2 linked regions of the Homo sapiens genome follow. The protein of the gene in region 1 interacts with the protein of each later gene in a biochemical or structural test. Each region holds a gene or a part of one and is shown on either strand. Other genes may lie near its edges.

Evidence for each region.
Region 2: the proteins of PRKAR2A (region 1) and AKAP13 form a complex in vitro, tested with the Homo sapiens proteins (3 studies listed by BioGRID, with this or other methods).

Annotation. Positions count from the first base shown.
Region 1 is NC_000003.12:48,767,439-48,775,397, reverse strand, and holds part of PRKAR2A (cAMP-dependent protein kinase type II-alpha regulatory subunit), read left to right. Parts: intron 1-2,289; coding exon 2,290-2,443; intron 2,444-7,959. UniProt on the Homo sapiens protein: Regulatory subunit of the cAMP-dependent protein kinases involved in cAMP signaling in cells. Type II regulatory chains mediate membrane association by binding to anchoring proteins, including the MAP2 kinase.
Region 2 is NC_000015.10:85,383,023-85,390,981, reverse strand, and holds part of AKAP13 (A-kinase anchor protein 13), read right to left. Parts: intron 7,307-7,959; exon of another isoform or gene 7,247-7,306; intron 6,920-7,246; exon of another isoform or gene 6,872-6,919; intron 6,776-6,871; exon of another isoform or gene 6,585-6,775; intron 1-6,584. UniProt on the Homo sapiens protein: Scaffold protein that plays an important role in assembling signaling complexes downstream of several types of G protein-coupled receptors.

The DNA.
Region 1 (7,959 bases):
GACATGATCTCGGCTCACTGCAACCTCTGCCTCCAGGTTTCAAGTGATTCTCCTGCCTCAGCCTCCCGAGTAGCTGGAATTACAGGCACCCGCTACCCGCCCAGCTAATTTTTGTATTTTTAGTAGAGACGGGGTTTCACCAGATTGGCCAGGCTAGTCTCGAACTCCTGACCTCAGGTGATCCACCCACCTTGGCCTCCCAAAGCGCTGGGATTATAGGCTTGAGCCACCGTGCCCGACCTGCTTTGTTTTAATCTTTGTTTTAACAGACTATGAAAGAAAACCCATGCATTCATATCAATACCTACAGCAAAGCATTTGACAAAATTCAACATCTTTTTGTGATGAAAATGCTCAGTAAACTAGCAACAAAAATAACTTTCCCTAACTAGACTAAAGGCATTTATTAAAAACCTACAGCTAACATCATATTTAATGGTGAAAAATTGTTTTTTCTTACAACTCAGAATAAGGCAAGGATGTTTGCTTTCACCACTTCCACTTAATATTGTACTGGAGGTTATAGTCAATGCAATAAGGCAAAGAAAGGAAGAGAGGGAGGGAGGGAGGCAAGGAAAAAAGGAAGAAAGAAAGAAAGTGTGGCATAGTACACAATGAAATACCATTTGACCATAAAAAAGAAAGAAGTCATGTCATTTGTAGCCACATGGAGGTTGCTATATTAAGGTAAATAAGATAGGCACAGGAAGACAAATACCACATGTTCTTGCTCACATGTGAATGCTAAAGAACATTGATATCGTAGACATAGAGAATAGAATGATATATACCAGAAACTGAGAAGGGTGGTGGGTGGATGAAGAAAAGTTGGCTAATGGGTACAAACACACAGTTAGATAGAAGAAATAAATTTTAATGTCTTTTTTTTTTCCTTTTTGTGGAGAGAAGTCTCCATACGTTGCCCAGGATTGTCTCAAACTCCTGGGCTCAAGCAACCCTCCCAGTTTAGCTTCCTAAAGTGCTGAGATTACAGGTGTGAGCCACTGCACCTGGCAAGTTCTAATGTTTTATAGCATGATAAGGTGACTATACTTGGGTGACAATATTTAGCATATTTCAAAGTAACTATTAATAGAAGAGAGGACATGAAATGATACTGACACATAGAAAGGACATATATCCAAGGTGATGGATACCCCAGTTACCCTGACTTAATCATTACCCATTCTATGCATGCAACAAACACTCACATGTACGCCATAAATTATGTAAAATATTATATATTAATAAAAGAAAAAAAATTAGGCCGGGCATGGTGGCTCATGCCTTTAATCCCAGTACTTTGGGAGGCTGAGACAGGAGGATTGCTTGAGCCCAGGAGTTCCAGACCAGCTTGGGCAACATAGTGAGACCCCATCTCTACAAAAATAAAATATTAGCCAGGTGTGGTGGCACACGTCTGTGGTCACAGCTACTCGGGGCTGAGGTGAGAGGATTGCTAGGGGGCTGAGGTGAGAGGATTGCTTGGGGCCAGGAGGTGGAGGCTGCAATGAGCCATGATTGTGCCTCTGCACTCCAGCCTGGGTGACAGAGCAAGACCCTGTCTCAAAAAAATATATATGTCAAAAAATGTATATATGTGTATATATATATTTATGTGTATGTATATATGTGTGTGTGTGTATATATATATATGTTTAAGTTAAAGATGGGGGGAAAAAAAGGAAGGGGCATATAGATTGGAAAGGAAGTATTAAAACTTTGTTTCAGGTGACATGATCCTCTATGTAGAAAATTCTAGCCGGGTGTGGTGGCTCACACCTGTAATCCCAGCACTTTAGGAGGCTGAGGCGGGCGGATCACGAAGCCAGGAGATCGAGACCATCCTGCTAACATGGTGAAACCCTGTCTAAAAATACAAAAAAATTATCTGGGCCTGGTGGCGCGTGCCTGTAGTCCCAGCTACTCGGGAGGCTGAGGCAGGAGAATGGCGTGAGCCCAGGAGGTGGAGCTTGCAGTGAGCTGAGATACCGCCCCTGCACTCCAGCCTGGGTGACAGAGCGAGACTCCGTCTCAAAAAAAAAAAAAAAAAAAAAAGAAAAGAAAATTCCAAGAATGCCACAAAAAGGCTACTAGAATTAATAAGTGAGTTTAGCAAGGTTATAGGACACAGTACAAAGTCAAAATACAAAAATATGTTTTTTTTATATACTAGCAAAGTTCCATTGGAAATCTCTTAAAACAACATTTTCTATTATATGTACCTGCCAGTTCTTAACATTTATTATCAGAAGTAACTAATTAAATTATTCTTTGTCATTCTTCTAGGGGAACTTATGACATTTTAGTAACAAAAGATAATCAAACCCGCTCTGTTGGTCAATATGACAACCGTGGCAGTTTTGGAGAACTAGCTCTGATGTACAACACCCCGAGAGCTGCTACCATTGTTGCTACCTCAGAAGGCTCCCTTTGGGGACTGGTGAGTGAGAGAAATCGTTCCCCTTGCAAGGCACAGTATTAATTCCCTTTCTGTGTCTCTGTCCTTGGGCTGTTGATTTACACTATATCTTACAGCCATCCTGGCTAACACGGTGAAACCCCATCTCTACTAAAAAATACAAAAAAAATAGCCAGGTGTGGTGGTGGGCATGTGTAGTCCCAGCTAGTTGGGAGGCTGAGACAGGAGAATGGCGTGAACTCGGGAGGTGGAGCTTGCAGTGAGCCGAGATCGCGCCACTGTACTCCAGCCTGGGCGACACAGCGAGACTCCGTCTCAAAAAAAAAAGCACTTTATTGTGACATCCTGATGTTAAATTAAGAGTGCTCCTGAAAGAGATACAGTGACTTAAGGATAGGTCACACACTTGGGGACTCAATGATTGAAAAACTCAAGAATAGATTTGTATAGGGGAATAATAAATAATGGGGGCCAGGCACGGTGACTCACACCTGTAATCCCAGCACTTGGGGAGGCCAAGGCGGGAAGATCACTTGAGGTCAGGAGTTCGAGACCAGCCTGAGCAACATGGTAAAACCGTGTCTCTACTAAAAATATGAAAATTGGCCAGTCATGGTGATGGGCGCCTGTAGTCCCAGGAGGCGGAGGTTGCAGTGAGCCAAGATCACGCCACTGCACTCTAGCCTGGGCGACTGAGCAAGACTCCATCTCAAAAAATACAAAATCAAATAATAAGCCTTGGTGCTAACTACTGGTTCAGACCAAGATGGAATAGCCCTATTCCATGCTAGTGTTCTCACTTAAAAACTTAAACACACACACAAACAACTATGGACATAATAGAGCAAACATAGGAAGACTCTGAAAGGTGGAAAGAAGAAGGCAGACTATCTAGGGATATTGGGGCTTGAGGAAAGACATGACAGTGAGTTCCCAGGTTCCCATATATCCCAGATGGGGTGCTGGAAAGCCTGAAATCCAGATCTTCTAACAGGTATATTCAACAAAAGCAAAACTCCATCTCAAAAACAAAACAAAACAAAAGAACGAACAGCTAAACAGAAAATCAGCTAGTGTCAGCTAGGATATAGAAGAACTTAACACCATTAATTAACAAAAGCTATCTGAAATTTATAGAACACTGCACACAGCAACAACAGAATGAACATTTTTTTCAAGCCCATGGAACATTCACCCAAATAGGCCATATCCTGGAATATAAAATAAAACTTAAAAAATGTAAAAGATTTGAAATCAGGCCAACCACAGTGGCTCAAGCCTGTTATCCCAGCACTTTGGGAGGTTGAGGTGGGAGGATTGAGTCCAGGAATTTGAGACCTACCTGGGCAGCATAGTGAGACCACATCTCTATTTAAAATTTTAAGAAATAATGAAAATTTAAAGAAAAAATGAAATCAGAATGTGTTCTCTAACTACAATTGAAAGAAAGAAACTAAAAATCAATAACAGATCTCCAGACACTTAGAAATTAAATAACATTGTTTTTGGTGTGAGCAGGGGCTAACTGCAGCCTTGACCTCCTGAGCTCAAGCAATCCTCCCACCTCAGCCTCCCAAGTAGCTGGGACTACAGGTGTGCACCACCACACCTGTCTTTTTGTTGTTGTTGTTGTTGAGACAGAGTCTCACTATGTTGCTCAGGCTGGTCTTGAACTTCTGGGCTCAAGCAGTCCTCCTGCCTTGGCCTCCCAAAGTGCTGGAATTACAGGCATGAGCCACTGTGCCCAGCCAAATAACACATTCTTTCTTTTTTTTCTTTTTTGAGATGATCTTGGCTCACTGCAACCTCTGCCTCCTGGGTTCAAGCGATTCTCCTACCTCGGCCTCCTGAGTAGCTGGGATTACAGACGTGTGCACATGTGCCACCACGCCCAGCCAATTTTTGTATTTTTAGTAGAAATGGAGTTTCACCATGTTGGCCAGGCTGGTCTCGAACTCCTGACCTCAGGTGATCTGCCCACCTCGGCCTCCCAAAGTGCTGGGATTACAGGCAAGAGCCACCGCACCCGGCCAAATAACCCATTCTTGGATAATCTCTAAGACCAAGTCTCAATGAAAATTGAAAACTGTATATTGAGCTGTAAAACCACCTGCTTTGTGGCTGGGGTATGAGGATTAAATACATGGGCATAAGAGAAGTGACTCCCTTAGTGCCTGGTACAAGGTGGGTGTTCACAGAATGATGGCACAAGCTCCCCATGGCCATGGTGCTACTCACCACCCTTCTTTTCCTGAGACTTCCTTTCCTAAGACTCCTATTCTTTCTATTTCCTTGCCTTTGGCAGTCATTTCCTCTTCTCCTTGCTTTCTTAGGTCAGTGACCTATCAAGATATCCTTTTGGCCTCTACTTTTCTCCTGTTAATTGACTTGCTTTGCAAGCCCAGACTCTTCCAAAGCTTCAATACCACCTCTAGGAAAGTAACTCACAGAAGGTCCTCTCCAGCCTGACTTCTTCTTTGGCCTTGGAAATGCCTTCTGAGGTTGAAGTAGGGAGGATCTGGTGTCGTCACTGAGTTTTTCAAGTTGGATCCTACATTCCTGCTTTTATAATGGGCAGCTGCCATCACGGCCCCTATACGTAGTCTCTTTTGCTTTCTCTTGCTTTATTGAAAGTCAATAGAAGGTTTCCTGGGAAATTCCTGCAGTCACAGGAGAGAGTAGCACTCCTTTTCTCTTTTGAACTTCAGGGGTGTTTGCTTGCCTCTGACCACTTGCTGCCTGTGGGAATTTCCTCTTCACTGCTCGATTGGATGCTCATCAAAGGCTATGTTGATGTCTGGTGCTTTTTTTATATTCTCCACAGCCATGGGAACTGGCCTTGCACCACATGAAAAGAGAGTTTTGGGAAGTGTTAAAGCATGCGTAAAAAGGGGTAGAACCAGCTGGGTGTGGTGACTCATGATGTAATCCCAGTACTTTGGGAGGCCACGGTGGGCAAATCACATGAGCCTAGGAATTCAAGACCAGCATGGGCAACGTGGTGAAACCCTGTCTCTATGAAAAATAAGAAATTAGCTGATGTGGCGGCACATGCCTGTAGTCCCAGCTACTTGGGACGCTGAGTTGGGAGGATCACCTGGGCCTAAGAGGTCAAGGCTGCAGTGAGCTGTGATCATGCCACTACACTCCAGCCTGCTGAGTGACAGAGTGAGACTCTGTCTCAAAAAAAAAAAGTCGCTTGCCGGGCGTAGTGGCTCGTGCCTGTAATCCCAGCACTTCGGAGGCCAAGGTGGGCAGATCACCTGAGGTCAGGAGTTGGAGACCAGCCTGACAAACATGGAGAAACCCTGTCTCTACTAAAAAATACAAAATTAGCTGGGCATGGTGGCGCATGCCTATAATCCTAGCTACTCTGGAAGCCAAGGCAGGAGAATCACTTGAACCTGGGAGACGGAGGTTGCGGTGAGGCAAGATTGCGCCATTGCACTCCAACCTGGTCAACAAGAACGAAACTCCATCTCAAAAAAAAAAAAAGTCGCTGTAAGAGATATTTGTTGTGGTCGGGCACAGTGGCTCACGCCTGTAATACCAGCACTTTGGGAGGCCAAGGCGGGCGGATCATGAGGTCAGGAGATTGAGACCATCCTGGCTAACACGGTGAAACCCCGTCTCTACTAAAAATACAAAAAATTAGCCGGGCGCGGTGGCAGGCGCCTGTAGCCCCAGCTACTCAGGAGGCTGAAGCAGGAGAATGGCGTGAACCAGGGAGGCGGAGCTTGCAGTGAGCCGAGATTGTGCCACTGCACTCCAGCCTGGGTGGCAGAGCGAGACTCTGTCTCAAAAAAGAAAAAAAAAAAGAAAGATATTTGTTGTTTTCTCTTTAGTTAGAAATCTGTTGTTGTTGTTGTTGTTTTTGAGATGGACTCTTGCTCTGTCATCCAGGCTGGAGTCCAGTGGCATTATCTCGGCTCACTGCAACCTCCGCCTCCAGGATTCAAGCAATTCTCCTGCCTCAGCCTCCTGCATAGCTGGGATTATAGGCATGTGCCAACAGTACTGGCTAATTTTTTATATTTTTGGTAGAGATGGGAATTCACCATGTTGGCTAGGCTGGTTTCGAACTCCTGACCTCAAGTGATCCACCCACCTCAGCCTCCCAAAGTGCTGGGATTACAGGCGTGAGCCATGCGCCCAGCCGAAATATTGTTTGCTATTGCAATTGTACTAATCTTTGTTACACTGTAGGTGGATTTGTAAAATATTGGGAGTTAACTTTGCTGCCCTCTGTGTATTTTTTAATATTTATTTATTTATTTATTTTGAGACGGAGTCTCTGTTGCCCAGGCTGGAGTATAGTGGTGTGATCTCGGCTCACTGCATCCTCTGCCTCCAGGGTTCAAGTAATTCTCATGCCTCAGCCTCCCAAGTAGCTGGGACTATAGGTGTACACCACCATGCCCAGCTAATTTTTGTATTTGTAGTAGACACGAGATTTCACCATGTTGGCCAGGCTGGTCTCGAACTCCTGACCTCAAGTGATCCACCCACTTTGGCCTCCCAAAATGCTGGGATTATAGGTGTGAGCCACTGTGCCAGGCCTTTTATTTTATCTATCTATGTATCTATGTATGTGTGTGTGTGTGTCTGTCTGTCTGTCTCTCTGTCTGTCTATATCTATCTATCTATCTATCTATCTATCTATCTATCTATCTATCTATCTTTTGAGACGGTCTCACTCTGTTGGCCAGGCTGGAGTGCAGTGGTGCTCTCACACCTCACTGCAACTTCGCCTCCCAGGGCTCAAGCAATCCTCCCACCTCTGCCTCCCCAGTAACTGGGACCACAAGTGCACGCCACCACGCCTGGCTAATTTTTGTATTTTTTGTACAGATGGGTTTCGCCATGTTGCCCAGGCTGTTCTCAAACTTCTGGGCTCAAACAATCCACCCACCTCCCCACCTCAGCCTCCCAAAGTGCTGGGAATACAGTCGTGAGCCACTGTTCCCAGCCTGTATGGGTTTTTTTTAAATAAATAAATAAAATATTGGGGTTTTCTGTTTTTGTGGGGTTTTTTTGTTTGTTTTTTTTTTTGAGATGGAGTCTCGCTCTGTCTCCCAGGCTAGAGTGCAGTGGTGTGATCTTGGCTCACTGCAACCTCCACCTCCCAGGTTCAAGCGATTCTCCTGTCTCAGCCTCCCTAGTAGCTGGGACTGCAGGCGCGTGCCGCCATGCCCAGCTAATTTTTTGTATTTTTAGTAGAGACGGGGTTTCATTGTGTTAGCCAGGATGGTCTCGATCTCCTGACCTTGTGATCCACCCGCCTCAGCCTCCCAAAGTGCTGGGATTATAGGTGTGAGCCACTGCGTCCAGCCTGTTTTTGTGTTTTAAATAGAGTTGAGGTCTCATTGTGTTGCCCAGGCTGGTCTTGAATTCCTAGCCTCAAGCGATCCTCCTGCCTTGGCCTCCCAAAGTGCAGGGATTACAGGCATGAACCACCACACACAGCCTAAAATATTGTTTTGTTTTTGTTTTTTTCGAGGCAGGGTCTCGCTCTGTTACCCAGGCTGGAGTGCAGT
Region 2 (7,959 bases), on another chromosome or scaffold:
CCATCACTGAACTCCAGAACTGTATATCCAAATGCTTACTGATACCTTCACTTAAAAATTTCACAGATCTCAAACTTAGCATGTCAACAGGGAAATCACAATTTCAACCTCTCAGCAAACTGATTCCACATCTTCCCCATTTACCCAGTTGTTCAGGTAAAACACCTAGGAATCCTCCTTAATTTCTTTCTTTCCTTTAGAACCTTTTTCCAATCTGTAAGTAATCCTATAGTTCTATTTTCAGCGTATATGGATTCAAACCGCTTCTCACCACTTTCGCTGCTACCACCCTAATCCAAGCCACCATCTTCTCTAGCCTGAACGACTGCAAATCTCTTAACTAGTCTCTCCGTTTCCACTACTGCTCCCTATGCCAAGAGTAAAGTTTTTAAAGCCTAAATCAACCTTGTCATGCCTTGCTCAAATCCTTCAGCTGTTTCCCACCATACCTAAGAGCCTATTTGATCTGGTCTCTGGCTACACATACAAACCTTATCTCCTCACGCTCTTTCTCACCCATTCCAGCCACACCAGGCTCCCTGTTCATTCTCCCATCTCAGGTCCTTTGCACTTGATGTTCCTTCCATACTTCCTCTGAATCTTCATGTGACTTGCTCCCTTGACTTTCTTCAGGTCTGTTCAAATCTCACCTCCTCAGTAAGGCCTTGTCTGACCTCCCCAATCTCTGCTAATACTCTTCATATCCTTCCTAGAATCATCACCACCAGACATGACTGCAATTGTTTGTTCACTCGTTTATTTTCTACTTCCCTCAATAGGATATAGATTAACGGCAGCAACTACAGATGTCACTGAATTCCCATTACCTAGAACCGTGCCTGACAAACAAAAGATACTTGAAAAAATTAACAAACAACCCTACAAGGTATGTCATATAACCATTTGCCAAGAGAAAAGAGAAGATTAGATTTCAGAGACAAATAACTTACCTAAAGCTGCATAGTAAATAAATAGCAAATGCACCTGAAAGAGCCAGCACTCTACCCACTGACTCACTACAACTTGCGACATAAAGCATATATGCTAAGAAACAAAAACGCAAAAGCAAGCATTTCTACATGAAAACACCAGATCACAAGTGTTACAGATCTTTTAGAATCTGTCTAGCAGGTTTTCTGCTTTTCACTGGAAGACTCCCCCACGGGGGGACAGAAAATAATAGATTATAGTGATCCTTCTCTTTCTGTTCATCACCATAGCAATTCATTTCTTTGATTAATCTTAGGTATGTACCATGTGCCTCTTCAACTAAAAGATACCTACATTGTTTTGTATTTCCCACAAAGCAATGGCTGAGCTACTGTCAGAAGATAGTCAACAAATACTTCTTTGTTATTTATACCCCCAAAGATTTTGAGAATCCTGTAATGAAATTTTAAGAACCACCAACAAAGCATACTCACCCAAAGGACTTCAGCTGCTAACCATGACGGAGTAACTGGATCCAGATTTATCCTGGCATCCTCCCTAACTACTAGAAAAGTGGACAAAATGCATGAGGCAGCATCCTTTAGAGCCTGAACAACAGGTAGCACAGAACTGCAGTCCCAAAGAGAAGGGAACAAATGAGATAAGCCCTAAAATCGCCCCAGCTTTCTGGCTGGAGGTACCTTCTAGACCATGGTGCAATGAGGAGGATCAAGCACAACATGACAGCCTTGTCAAGTTTAGAAAACAAACATAGCTTGGGAAGGCTAAGGAGTTTGAAAATTGCAGAGTACGAGAGAAGAGGAGGGAGCTGTATGAAAAAGGAGCTCCAGAAATCAGCATAGAGGCCCCATGAGTCTCACACCCAGTAGTAAGCCAAGCATGCATATTGTAAAAATACATGAGGGCACGCAAAGAATCACCCAGGAACTGTAAGCTAAATGATCTCCAAAGTTCACACAGGGCTGGGAGACATTTGTGTTCTCAACTGCCAGAATAGAGTCCTCAAGGAGAGCCCAATTCTTCAATGAAAACTACAGGAGCTTCATGCCTTAGTAATGGGGTGTAACAAGCAACTTACACACATAAGTTTGGCAACTTAACTTGCCAAAACAAAGTATGATACTCTTTAAAGCAATGGTTCTTGTGTTTGAAATAACTTTACCCCCAAGGAGACATCTGACATTTAACAGATAAGGACTCAACAACTATCATGAATATTATACATATGATCAAGAACCTATTTTTAAAATGAACATAACGGGAAACAAATGGAAGAAATAAAAAAAGATTCAGTAGCAAATGGAACCCAAAGACATGTAAAAAATAATACATCACGACTAAATGAGTATTATCACAAGAATGCAAAGCTATTTCAACGTATTACACCAGACTAAAGAAGAAAAAACATATGATTATGTCAATAAATACAGAAAAACCTTTGACAACATTCAATATCTATTCATGATAAAAACTCTCAGCAAACTAAACATAGAAGACAATTTCCTCAACTTGATAAAAGACATCTACAAAAACAAACACCTATGGCTACCATCATATTAATGGTCAAACACTCAGTGTTTTCCCCTCTAACATCAGGAAAAAGGAAAGGATGTCCACTTGTAAAACTCCTATTACACATTACACTGAGGGTCCTAGATAGTTCAGCAAAGTAACAAAAAGAAATCACGCCCAGCGCTGTAGCTCACGCCTGTAATCCTAGCACTTTGGGAGGCTGAGGCTGGCGGATCACTTGTGGTCAGGAGTTTGAGACCAGCCTGGCCAACATGGTGAAACCCAGTCTCCACTTAAAAAAAAAAAAATACAAAAATTAGCCGGGCATGACAACATGCACCTGTAATCCCAGCTACTTAGGAGGCTGAGGCACGAGAATCACTTGAACCTGGGGGGCCACAGGTTGCAGTGAGCTGAGATCGCACCACTGCACTCCAGCCTGGGTGACAGAGCGAGTCTCTATCTCAAAAAAAAAAAAAGGAAATGAAAGTATACAAAGTGAAAACGAAGAAATCAAACTGCCCTTATTTGCCAATGACAATAATGTCTATGCAGAAAATTCCAAAAATCTACAAAAAAAGCTTCTATTACTAAAAATGAGTTTAGCAAGGGTGTAGGATCCAAGGTCAGCAAATAATATAAAATGATCTTTCTATATACCAGCAATGAGCAACTGGAAATTGAGAAGTATCATTCACAACAACACCAGAATACATGAAATACATGTATAAGATTACAAAACACATGCAAGATCCAATTGCTAAAAACTACAAAACACTAATCAAAAATCTAAGGTCTAAATAGATATACCATGTTCATGGCTCATTATTAAAATGTCAATTGCCCCCTAACTGATTTCCAGCTTCAACACAATGCCAATCAAAAACCACAGCAGGCTGGGCATGGTGGGTCATGCCTGTAATCCCTACACTTTGGGAGGCCACAGTGGGAGGATCACTTCATCCCGGGAGTTTGAGGCCAGCCTGGGCAACATAGAGAGACTCTGTCTCTACAAAAATAAAAAAATTAGCCAGGTAGTGCATGACTGTGATCCCAACTACTTGGGAGGCTGACGTGGGAGAATCGCTTGGGCCCAGGAGATCAAGGCTGCAGTGAGTGGTTATCCTACCACTGCATTCCACACTGGACAACTGAGTGAGACCCTATCTTTTTTTGTTTTTTTAAGACGGACTCTCGTTCTATCACCCAGGCTGGAGTAAAGTGGCGCAATGTCGGCTCACTGTAACCTCCATCTCCCGGGCTAAAGCAATTCTCCTGTCTCAGCCTCCCAAGTAGCTGGGATTACAGGCGCCCACCACCACGCCCAGCTATTTTTTGTATTTTTTAGTAGAGACGGGGTTTTGCCATGTCAGCCAGGCTGGTCTCGAACTCCTGATCTCAGGTGATCCACCCGCCTCAGCCTCCAAAGTGCTAGGATTACAGGCGTGAGCCACCACACCCGGCTGAGACCTCATCTTAAAAAAGAAAAAAAAGAAAAAGAAAAACCCAGCAGGACTTGTGGATAACAGCAAGATGAATCTAAAATATGCACAAAAGGCAATGCAACTAAAATACCCAAAAAACAATTCTGAAAAATAATAAGATAACTCACACTACCTGATTTTAAAACTTACTCTAAGGTGACAGTAATCAACAGTGAGGTGATAGAGAAATGAAAGACACAGATCAATGGAATAGGAGAGAGAATCCAGAAACAAAACCACACATTTATGATCAACTTGCAAAAAAAAAAAGGCACAAAGGTAATCAACAGAGAAAGGACAGTCTTTTCAAAAACTGTTGCTGGAAAAATTGTAAATCCATCCACAAAAAAATAAACTCAATGCATACCTTGCACCATTTAGGAAAATTAAATCAAAGCAGATAATAAATGTAAATATAAAATTTTAAATGATAAAACTTCTAGGCGAGCCGGGCACAATAGCTCACGCCTGTAATCCCAGCACTTTGGGAGGCTGCGGTGGGTGGCTCACTTGAGGTCAGGAGTTCAGACCACCCTGGTCAACATGGTGAAACCCCATCACTAGTAAAAATACAAAAATTAGGCATGGTGGTGGGTGCCTGTAATCCCAGCTACTCAGGAGGCTGAGGCAGGAGAATCACTTGAACCCGGGAGGCGGAGATTCCAGTGAACAAGATCTCACTCACGCCAGCCTGGATGACAGAGTGAGACTCCATCTCTAAAAAAAAAAATAATAACTTGTAGGAGGAAATATAGGGGAAAGTCTTTGAGCTCTTAAGTTAGGCAAAGATTTCTAAACTATTATACCAAAAGCATGATCCACTCAGGGAAAAAACAAAAAAACAAAAAAACACTGGATATCATAAAAATTAAGAACTTCTGCTCTTCAAAAGACATTATTAAGACAAGAAGGCCAGACACAGTGGCTCGCGCCTGTAATCCCAGCACTTTGGGAGGCCGAGGCAGGCAGATCACTTGAGGTTAGGAGTTCAAGATCAGCCTGGCCAACATGGAAAAGCCCCATCTCTACTAAAATACAAAAATTAGCTGGGTGTGGTGGTGTGTGCCTGTAATCCCAGCTACTCGGGAGGTTAAGGCAGGAGAATCACTTGAACCCAGGAGGCAGACGTTGCAGTGAGCCAAGATCTCACCACTGTACTCCAGCCTAGGTGACAGAGCCAAACTCCATCTCGAAACAAACAAACAAAAAAAGACATTATTAAGACAAGTAAAAACAGACTAGGAGAAAATATCTGCAAATCATGTATTTGATTCCAAAGTATATACAAAAACTCATTTTTTAAGCAAAAGATTTTGAATTGACATCAAAGAATGACAAATAATCAGATGAAAAGATACTTAATATCATTAGTCATTGGGCAAATGAATAAAAAGGCTACATTCCGTGTGATTCCATTTTTACAACATTCTTGAAAAGGCAAAAAACCATGGAGACAGAAAACAGATCAGCAATTTCCAGAGTCTGGGGGTAGAGAACCGGTTGAGTACAAAAGGGCTCAGAAGAATTCTGGAGGATGAAGGGACTGTCCTGTTTGCAGCAGTGGATATATGAATGTATACACCTGTCAAAACTCAGAGAATGTTACACTAAAATGGCGGAATTTTAGTGAATGTAAACTATACATATGAATAATTAAAGAATGAAAAAATAGAGACTAAAGAGACATAATGATGTGCTGAGTGAACTTTAATTTTACTCTGTCCAAAATTTTTCTTAATCAACTATAAAAGATATTTGGGAGACAAATAGAGAAAGTTGAATAGGTATTGAATAATATTATAGAATTAACGTTAATCTTTCTTGTTGTGAATAACTGCAGTTGGTTATGTAGAAAAAGGGTCAGCAAACTTCTGTAAAAGCCCAGATAGTAAATATTTTCTGCTTTGCAGATCACATGGTCTCTGTTGTAACTACTCAACTCTGCTACTATAGCACCAAAGTAGCCAGAGAAGAGCTTACAGAGTGACATAAATGGTCAAAAACCTCACACGTTTTCCTTCTCTCCCATACTAGCACCCATATCATACAAACACACTGATATCCACATTCCCCAGGCACTGAACACAGCATTGCCCCACACAAATGTTCATACAATCACGGTATTTCAGTACCAGGTCCATCCTTACAGCAAGGTCTGACAAAAACACATTATCCATTCATCTTCTATTCATAACGTCACAATCAACTTGTAGGTGGACGAGAAAACTATAAATATGAGGACAAACGCAGGAAACAAACTTTCTTCCACTGACCAGTGAGGACAGATGCATGAAACAAACCTTTTTTTTTTTTTTTTTCAGACGGAGTCTCGCTCTGTCGCCCAGACTGGAGCACAGTGGCATGATCTCGGCTCATTGCAACCTCCACCTCCCGGGTTCAAGCGATTCTCCTGCCTCAGCCTCCCAAGTAGCTGGGATTACAGGCACCTGCCACCCTGCCGGGCTAGTTTTTGTATTTTTAGTAGAGATGTGGTTTCACCATGTTGGCCAGGCTGGTCTTGAACTCCTGACCTCAAGTGATCCGCCCGCCTCAGCCTCCCAAAGTGCTGGGATTACAGGCGTGAGCCACTGCGCCAGGCTATGAAACAAACTTTCTTCCACCCACAGCTTTCTCGTCTCTCCCCATTTACAGCAGTAAGACAGCCTAACCTGGGAAAGAGAGAGGGAAGCTACTTCCAAATGGATGCCTGTCCCCATCAGTAATAACCAAGTCTATTCAAGTGCCAGATGTTAACTTTAAAAGAAGGGAACATCAAAAGTCCAACTTTCTTCGCCTAGCTTTGTCAGGAATGTTTTTACCCTCAATCTGTAAGTGTGACCAACTGTAATTTTTAAAGGTTTATCCTCAATCTGTAAGTTTGATCAAATATAATTTTTAAAGGTTTACTATAATCTCTTCATCAGAAAACTAATGGAAAGATGGAATAAAATCTAAAGAAATGTCCTTAACAGGTAAATATTTCTAGAATGTATCTACTCCATCTAGGTAGTGTAAGTATTCTAAACTATGCTAGTATAACTGATTTAAATCACTGCCTTCTTCTGTAAATGGTGTCACCTTTAAAGTGTTATCTTGAAGAGGAAGTGAGTGATTTGCTCATGTCTCTGTACTGAACTAACACTGTTAACACCCAGTCCAGCTCTACCTTAAACAAGTTTGAGAAATACAGACACAATCCACACTTATTTGCCAAGACTAAGGTAAAATAAAGTTGGAACTCATATCCTCTTATGACTGATGTACTGAAAACAATCCATCTCTCACTGTTGCCCAAATAGCATAGTCACAAAGAGCTCTACCCTACCAAGCCACTCTGCAAGTCCCACTCTCAAAGGAAGACTCACAGGTGACTGAGAAGATAAACTCGCTATTGTTTCCATTATCCTTCAGTTCATCTGGCACCTTTGAAGAAATAGACTTCGATAAGACTCACAAGTCTCAAGGCCCCTTCTTTATGAAAGAAATAGCTAAACCTCTACACTCAGAAGCATCAGACTTTTAAGAATGCTTAAGTCATGTAAAAATGTACCAAAATTATTATCATTACAGCTACTAGGTAATAGCTGCCTACTCCATGTTAGATACTGTAGTTAAGTACCTCACATAGTTTCACTGATTCCTAAGAACACTGTTACTAACGCTTATGGAGTAGGAAACTGAAGCTCTGAGAGGCTATGCAACTAGTCAATGGAAGTGTGGAGATCTGAACGCTACCTAGTTCCAAAGGGTGTACTTTTTTCTAAAATTTCTAATTTTTTTCCAATTTCACAATGGAGGGAGAGTTGTGACTAGATTTGTCCAACAATTTTAATAATTTCACTGGCTGGGTGGAGTGGCTCACGTCTGTAATTCCAACACTGTGGGAGGCTGAGGTGGGAGGATGGCTTGGGTCCAGGAGTTAGAGACAACTGGGCAACAGTGAAGATTCCGACTCTAAAAAAAAACAATAATAATTTCACAAAAAGGGGGGGGCTGATTTCTAAATTGGAAC